Linked DNA regions of Homo sapiens. The protein of the gene in region 1 interacts with the protein of each later gene in a pairwise test. Each region holds a gene or a part of one and is shown on either strand. Other genes may lie near its edges.

What was found. The genes of interacting proteins can lie anywhere in the genome.
Region 2: the proteins of ZSCAN32 (region 1) and MAD1L1 interact in binary tests that used the Homo sapiens proteins (3 or more experiments, as listed by UniProt).

The regions. Positions count from the first base shown.
Region 1 is NC_000016.10:3,391,005-3,394,504, reverse strand, and holds part of ZSCAN32 (zinc finger and SCAN domain-containing protein 32), read left to right. Parts: intron 1-690; coding exon 691-856; intron 857-3,500.
Region 2 is NC_000007.14:2,215,946-2,219,445, forward strand, and holds part of MAD1L1 (mitotic spindle assembly checkpoint protein MAD1), read right to left. Parts: coding exon 3,387-3,500; intron 2,099-3,386; coding exon 2,017-2,098; intron 343-2,016; coding exon 212-342; intron 55-211; coding exon 1-54. UniProt on the Homo sapiens protein: Component of the spindle-assembly checkpoint that prevents the onset of anaphase until all chromosomes are properly aligned at the metaphase plate.

The DNA of each region.
Region 1 (3,500 bases):
ATGAGGTGAAGAGAGAGGACCAATGCGAGGTCTCTTTTGAAGACAGAACTGATACTGGATTTGGGGGGCAGAGGAAATGGCCTAGTGCTGAAGTCATGGGGGTTTGCTAAAGTGAAAGCTGACATTCTCTCTTCTGACAAATATATTTCAGTTTTTAACAGTTCTGGTGTGTCAGGCTCTATGCTAGGTGCTGTCATATAAATAATCTTAACCACTTCAAAGAGTTTTTTTTTGTTTTTGAGACAGAGTCTTGCTGTGTTGTCCACGCTGGAGTGCAGTGGCGTGATCTTGGATCACTGCAACCTCCGCCTCCTGGGTTCAAGTGATTCTCCTGCCTCAGCCTCCCAAATAGCTGGGGTTACAGATTCACACCACTACACCCAGCTAATGTTTGTATTTTTAGTAGAGACGGGGTTTCTTTCACCTTGTTGCCAGGCTGGCCTTGAACTCCTGACCTCACGTGATCCACCTGCCTCGGCCTCCCAAAGTGCTGGGATTACAGGCGTAAGCTACTGCCCCTCAAATACCTAATTCTATTAATTTTTATTTTATTACAGCAGCAATACAGTGGCTCCTAGATTTTTCTCTTCTGCTTCCTTATGTTACACATTTTTTAATGCCACTCTTAGGAGTTGTAAAGTCCAGCTTAGGCAGGAATTTGTAGTGATAGATAATGGGGTCTGTTCTCAGGTTCTAGATTCTGAGAAGGACTTGAAAGTACTCATGAAGGAGATGGCCCCTTTGGGAGCAACCAGAGAATCACTGAGATCCCAATGGAAACAGGAGGTTCAGCCAGAGGAACCGACTTTTAAGGGATCACAGAGCTCACACCAAAGACCAGGGGAACAGTCAGAAGGTAAGCAGAAGCCTCTGTCCTCACCTGAGGCAGGTGAGGAACAATCATTTACTGGAAACAAAGGTCTGAACTGAGTCCACCCAAGGGTTCCAGACTAAATGCCTTTGAAATACATCCAAAAACCGGCAGGGCGTGTTGGCTCACGCCTGTAATCCCAGCACCTTGGAAGACCAGACAGGCGGATCACCTGAGGTCAGGAGTTCGAGACCAGTCTTGCTAACATCGTGAAACCCCGTTTCTACTAAAAATACAAAAAATTAGCTGGGCATGGTAATCCCAGCTACTCAGGAGGCTGAGTCAGGAGAACTGCTTGAACCCAGGAGGTGAAGGTTGCAGTCAGCCAAGATCGCACCACTGTATTCCAGCCTGGGCTGTCTCAAAGAAAACAAAAAATATATATATATATAAAATATATAAATTTATATATATATATATATATAAATATAAATATATATATAAATATAGAAATATATATATAGAAATATATATATATCTCTCTCCATATCCAAAAGCAAGATTACAAATTTCAGTTGAGGGTAATAGCACTTAAAGTAGGAACAGAGATTCTTTATGTGTTAGCATAATTCTTTTTTATTACAATTCTGTTACTAAAGAATCAGGTGTCATTAAAGGTGAACATGGTTACCTTCACCTTCTGCACAGCAGTTTTTCATATACTTGAAGACATTAAATCCCCTTCCCCATCCAACTTAATCTTTTCCAGAATACATTTTTATTATTTTTGCTTTTCTTCCAGAGCTCTATTTTTTGTTTTTACTTGTCTTAATTTTTTTAGAAAACTTTTTTTGTTTCTTTGTTTTTTGAGACGGAGTCTTGCTCTGTCGCCCAGGCTGGAGTGCAGTAATGCGATCTTGGCTTACTGCAAGCTCTGCCTCCCAGGTTCACGCCATTCTCCTGCCTCAGCCTCCCAAGTAGCTGGGACTAAAGCACCCGCCACCATGCCCGGCTAATTTTTTGAATTTTTAGTAGAGACGGCGTTTCATCGTGTTAGCCAGGATGGTCTCGATCTCCTGACCTCGTGATCCACCTGCCTCGGCCTCCCAAAGTGCTGGGATTACAGGCATGAGCCACCACGCCTGGCCTTAGAAAACTTTTTAAACTAAAAAAATTATCTTGGCTGGGTACAATGGCTTATGCCTGTAACCTCAGCACTTTGGGAGGCTGAAGCGGGAGGATAGCTTGAGCCTAGGAGTCGAGACCAACCTGGGCAACATAACAAGATCCTGTCTCTACCAAAAAAAAAAAAAAAAAATTGTTTTAATTGAGGTGAAGGTCACATAACATAAAATTAACCATTTCAATGAACAATTCAGTTATGCTTAGTACATTCACAGTGTTATGCAGCCATCACCTCTGTCTAGTTTCAAAACATTTTTATCCTCCCGAAAAGGAAACCCTGTACCCATTAAACAGTTGCTCCCCATTCTGTTTCCATGGATTTACCTGTTGTGGACATTTCATATAAGTTGAATCACATGTATTATGTGACGTTTTGTGTCTGCCTTCTTTCACTTTTCATGTTTTGAGCATGTATCAGTACTTTGTTCCTTTTGATGGCTGAATATTCCATTGCATGGATATTCCAAGGGTCTATATTTTTATAAGTCTTTTTCCATAAAGTAATTTGGCTAGATACTTGCTGCCTTTTCTGTTTAATTGGAAGCTGCCATTACAGGTTGCTAGGTAAGTTTTTTTAAGAGACAGGGTCTTGCTCTGTTGCCCAGGCTGGAGTGCAGTGGTGGCATCATAGTTCACTGCTGCCTCAAACTGCTAGGTTCAAGCAGTCCTCCTGCCTCAGCCTCCCAAAGTGCTGGGAATACAGGCATGTGCCACCACATCCAGCCTGAAAAACAGTGTGTCTTGATGATGTTTAAGTTGGCAAACCTGTGTTGATAAACTGGAAAATTGTCTAAGAGATTTTAGTATTTTGTTTTTTTTTTTTTTTTTTGAGATGGAGTTTCACTCTTGTCGCCCAGGCTGGAGTGTAGCGGCATGATGTTGGCTCACTGCAACCTCTGCCTCCTGGGTTCAAGTGATTCTCTTGCCTCAGCGTCCTGAGTAGCTGGGATTACAGGCGCCTGCCACCACGCCCGGCTAATTTTTTGTATTTTTAGTAGAGACAGGGTTTCGCCATGTTGGGCAGGCTGGTCTCGAACTCCTGACCTCAGGTGATCTGCCTGCCTCGGCCTCCCAAAGTGCTGGGATTACAGGCGTGAGCCACCGCGCCCGGCTGATTTTAGTTTTTTTTTAAGCAAAGTTAATACTCTTGTCAACATCTTTATAAACTTTGCCACTTAGCATTTATTTCCTTTTAATCCTTGGGAACACCTGTGTTCTCTGTGTGTGATTTCCAAGGCTTTGGGACAGCAGGGGGCTGTAAGTAAAGAGAAGCAGGACTTGCTGCCTTCCAGGCTAGGCTCCCGCTCTTCCCAGGCCCATGGGCCACTCACAGATCTGGAGTGTTGTCACCTCCCGAAGGGTCACATACCTCTGAGTTGCCACTGAAGTTCCATTAATAAGTCATAGACATGATTCATTTTATTTGTACAATTTTTTTAATTTTCCTGTATTTTTAAGCGATGTCACAGTCATATTTGTACAATTCTTGAAGTTGGAGACTTGA
Region 2 (3,500 bases), on another chromosome or scaffold:
CTCTGCAGCCCTTCCAGCTCTTCCTGGAGCAGCCCGTTGGTCTCTCTCATCTCCCTGGCAGTGCCACAAAGAGTCGCTCAAATAGCCACACACCCTAGGGATAAGGCCAAGAGCCCGGGAGCCCTGCCCCTACAGGGTCTGCACAGTGGGCTCCATGTGCACAAACCCAGACTCACTCGAGGCGGCTGCCCCATCCCCCGCAACCCCTCACCGCAGGTGCGCGCTCTCCTCCCGCAGCTGCTTCAGCTCCCGTTCCAGCCTAGGGAGCCGTACCAGCTCAGACTTCATGTTCTTCACAATCGCTGCATCCTGCTCTTGCAGGGACAGCTTCTGCTCCAGATCCTGATGGAGGCCAGGGACAGAGAAGAAGGGAAAAATGAGCCACGAAGAGACCTGGAGAAAATCACACGCACACGGCTAAGAGAAGGAAGCCGGTCTGCAACGGCTATACACACTGCAGGATCCAACCACAGGACGTTCTGGGAAAGGAAGGGGTTGTCAAGGGCTCAGAAGGAGAGAGGCAGGGATTGACTGGGGGAGCAGAGAGGATTTTTAGGCAGTAAAACTTTTCTGTGTGACACTCTAATGGCAAATATAGAACATTTTACATCTGCCCGAACCATACACTGTCCCACTCCAAGAGTGACCCTCGCATGACCCGTGGACTCTGCGTGACACTGATGTGTCCAGGCAGGTTCATCACCGTCACACGTGCTCCACTCTACCAGGGTAGGCTGTGTGTGTAGGAGCGGGCGCAGGGGGTACACAGGAGCTTTACCTTCTGCTCATTTTGCTGTGAACCTAAAATTGCTCTAGAAAATACCATCCATTAAAAATTAAAGTCATTGAGGTCACAAAGTTCCTTCGCTAAACTGCCCCAGGTCCTCAGCAGCCTCCATGCCTCAGGACTCTCCTGTGGGAGGCCTTCCTGGGCTGCACCAGGGGCCTCGAAGCTGCTTCCAATACTGAGCCTCAGCATCCACTCCAGGGCAGCTCTTCCCAGCGCCGACCTCCCAGCCCTCCGCGTACTGGGAGCTGGCATTCACACTGCACACTGCCGGGCTGCTGTGCTCACCACCTGCCCTCGGGGAGCTCTCCAGGAGCAAAAGTCTGTCTCAAGTCTGGTCCAGGATGGCACTCCATGGTAAAACATCCCACCCCTCCCGTGTCAAGCCCACTTCTGCCACTCTAGCAGCACGTGTGACAGCTCAGTCTTTCCAATAGTGAGGACAGGCTTTTCCCTACGGTACCCAGTCCCCTTGGGACACAGACAGCTGGCATCTGTGAGCAGCAAGTCACTGAACAGGCAGAGTATGAAACCACGACCAAACCAGACGGTCATTCAACAAACACTAACAGAGTCCATCGCCCTGCCAGCCAGAAAATCCTGAGAGGTGGACTGAGGGCTGCGAGGGGCCAGGGACCACCACCAGGAGCGGACATGGCAGAGGCCAGGCTGGGGGTGCCGGGCAGCTCTGCAGCCAGGAAGAGCTGGTGTGAAGCCTGGAGGTGAGGGTGCATAAGGGCTGAGAGGGCACGGCCAGAGCACAGGGTCTGGAGGCTGCTCTCCAGGCAACAGGAGGCAGGAGAGGGATCTGGAGTCAACGTCTCCCTGGCACGTCCTCCGCAGGGAAATGGCACAGCCTGAGCTTGAGTCAGATGCCCTGACTGAGACCCAGCTCCAGCTGTGCAACTGTGGGCAGCTTTCTCAACCTCTCTATGCCTGTAGCATCTTCTCACGCTCATCAGCACTTGACGTCATCACACACACGGACATTTTCTCTTGGTGTTTGTGGTCAGTCTCCCTCCTCTAGAATACACGCTCCCAAGAGCGGAAGCATCTGCCTCATTCACCATGGCATCCCTGGTGCCCAGCACAGTGCCCAACACACAGGGCAGCAGCTAACCTCACAGAAGGACCACGGAGCTCGGCACCAGCGCAGAAAGGCCGACAGGGGCAGGAGAGTCAAGGCCACCACAGGGATGTCCACAAGGCACTGACAGGGAGTGACTCACCTTAATCTGCTGCTCGTGGTCTGCTCTTGCTTCTTGGCTGGCCTGGAGTTCCTGGATTTTCTGATTGGCTTCCTGGCATTTTCTATTGAAAGAAAAATACATCACACACAGAAACAGGCATGCGGCAAGGCCAACAATTCTCCTCAGCCTGAGACCCGCCCCAGCACAGACCCACATACGTTCATTCCCACCCCAAGGTTCAGGACCTCCCACGGCACAGACCCCCCGCCCCCCGCCAACACACACTCCACTGCATGGGTACCCCAAGGTCCCAGGCCCCAGCCCCTGTGGGCTGGCTCTCAGGCCTCAGTCTGCTCATTCAGACGGGGTGCGTAGTGAGCCCAGGCCACCTGCAAGGACCTCTCCAACAGTGGAACCCACAGCTCTCACCTGCCTGCGGCAACCCCCAGCCCTGGTGCAGCTGCGGTAGGGCCCCACCCAGGAATGACCTCTCCTCTCTACTACGGAACTAGAACTCTCCTAAAACCACATCTGCTGATGGAAGGGTCCAAGTCTGCAGGAGATGCCCACAGTCTCCTGACTGCACCTCCAGACAAGGCTCTCACGTCTGTGCCTCGGCTCAGCCCTGTGCCTGGACATCCCTTCCCAGCCACGCCCCCTCCACCTCCAAGGCACATGATGCTGCCCTTTCAACCTAGCCCTCAGCAGGGTACGGCGGCTCAGCCTGGGATCCCAGCACTCTAGGAGGCTGAGGCAGGAGGATCGCTTGAGGCCAGGAGCTCAAGACCAGCCTGGGTTACAAAGCGAGACCGCCATCTCTACAAAACGTTTTTTAAAATTAGCCAGGTGCAAAACTAATCCCAGCTACTCAGGAGGCCGAGGCAGGAGAATCACTGAACCCAGGAGGCGGAGGCTGCAGTGAGCCGAGATGGTGCCACTGCACTCCAGCCTGGGTGACACAGCGAGACTCAATCTCAAAAAAAAAAAAATTAGCCAGGTGTACTGCACATGCTTGCAGACCCAGTTACTCGGGAGGCTAAGGCAGGAGGATCACTTGAGCCCAGGAGGTTGAGGCTACAGTGAGCCATGATTACACCATTGCACTCCAGGCTGGACGACAGAGTGAGACCCTGTCTCAAAAAATAAAGTAAAATCTGGCTCTGCAGGAGCCCTCTCTAAGAAGGAGGGGGAGGAAGTTGCTGCCCCCATTCTGCTCCAGGAACATCAGGACACTTTCTGGGCTCACGGTCCTGGCTCCAGAGGCCTCAGCATCTGCCCCTCTTGAGTGTCTGTGAATTAGGACAGCATCTGGGAGTGTATCCACATCCCACCCAGCCACCAGGAGAGAGGTGGGACGCATGCCCCCACACGTGACCCGACCCCCGACCCCACACCCTGGCCCCGCCCACTTGTGTTGCAGGTCCAGCTGCTCCTGCAGCTCCTGCTTCTCCGACTCCAGGCGCTTCACCCGCATCTCCTGGTCCATCACGCTCCACTGCAGTTCCGAGATCCTCCCCTTCAGT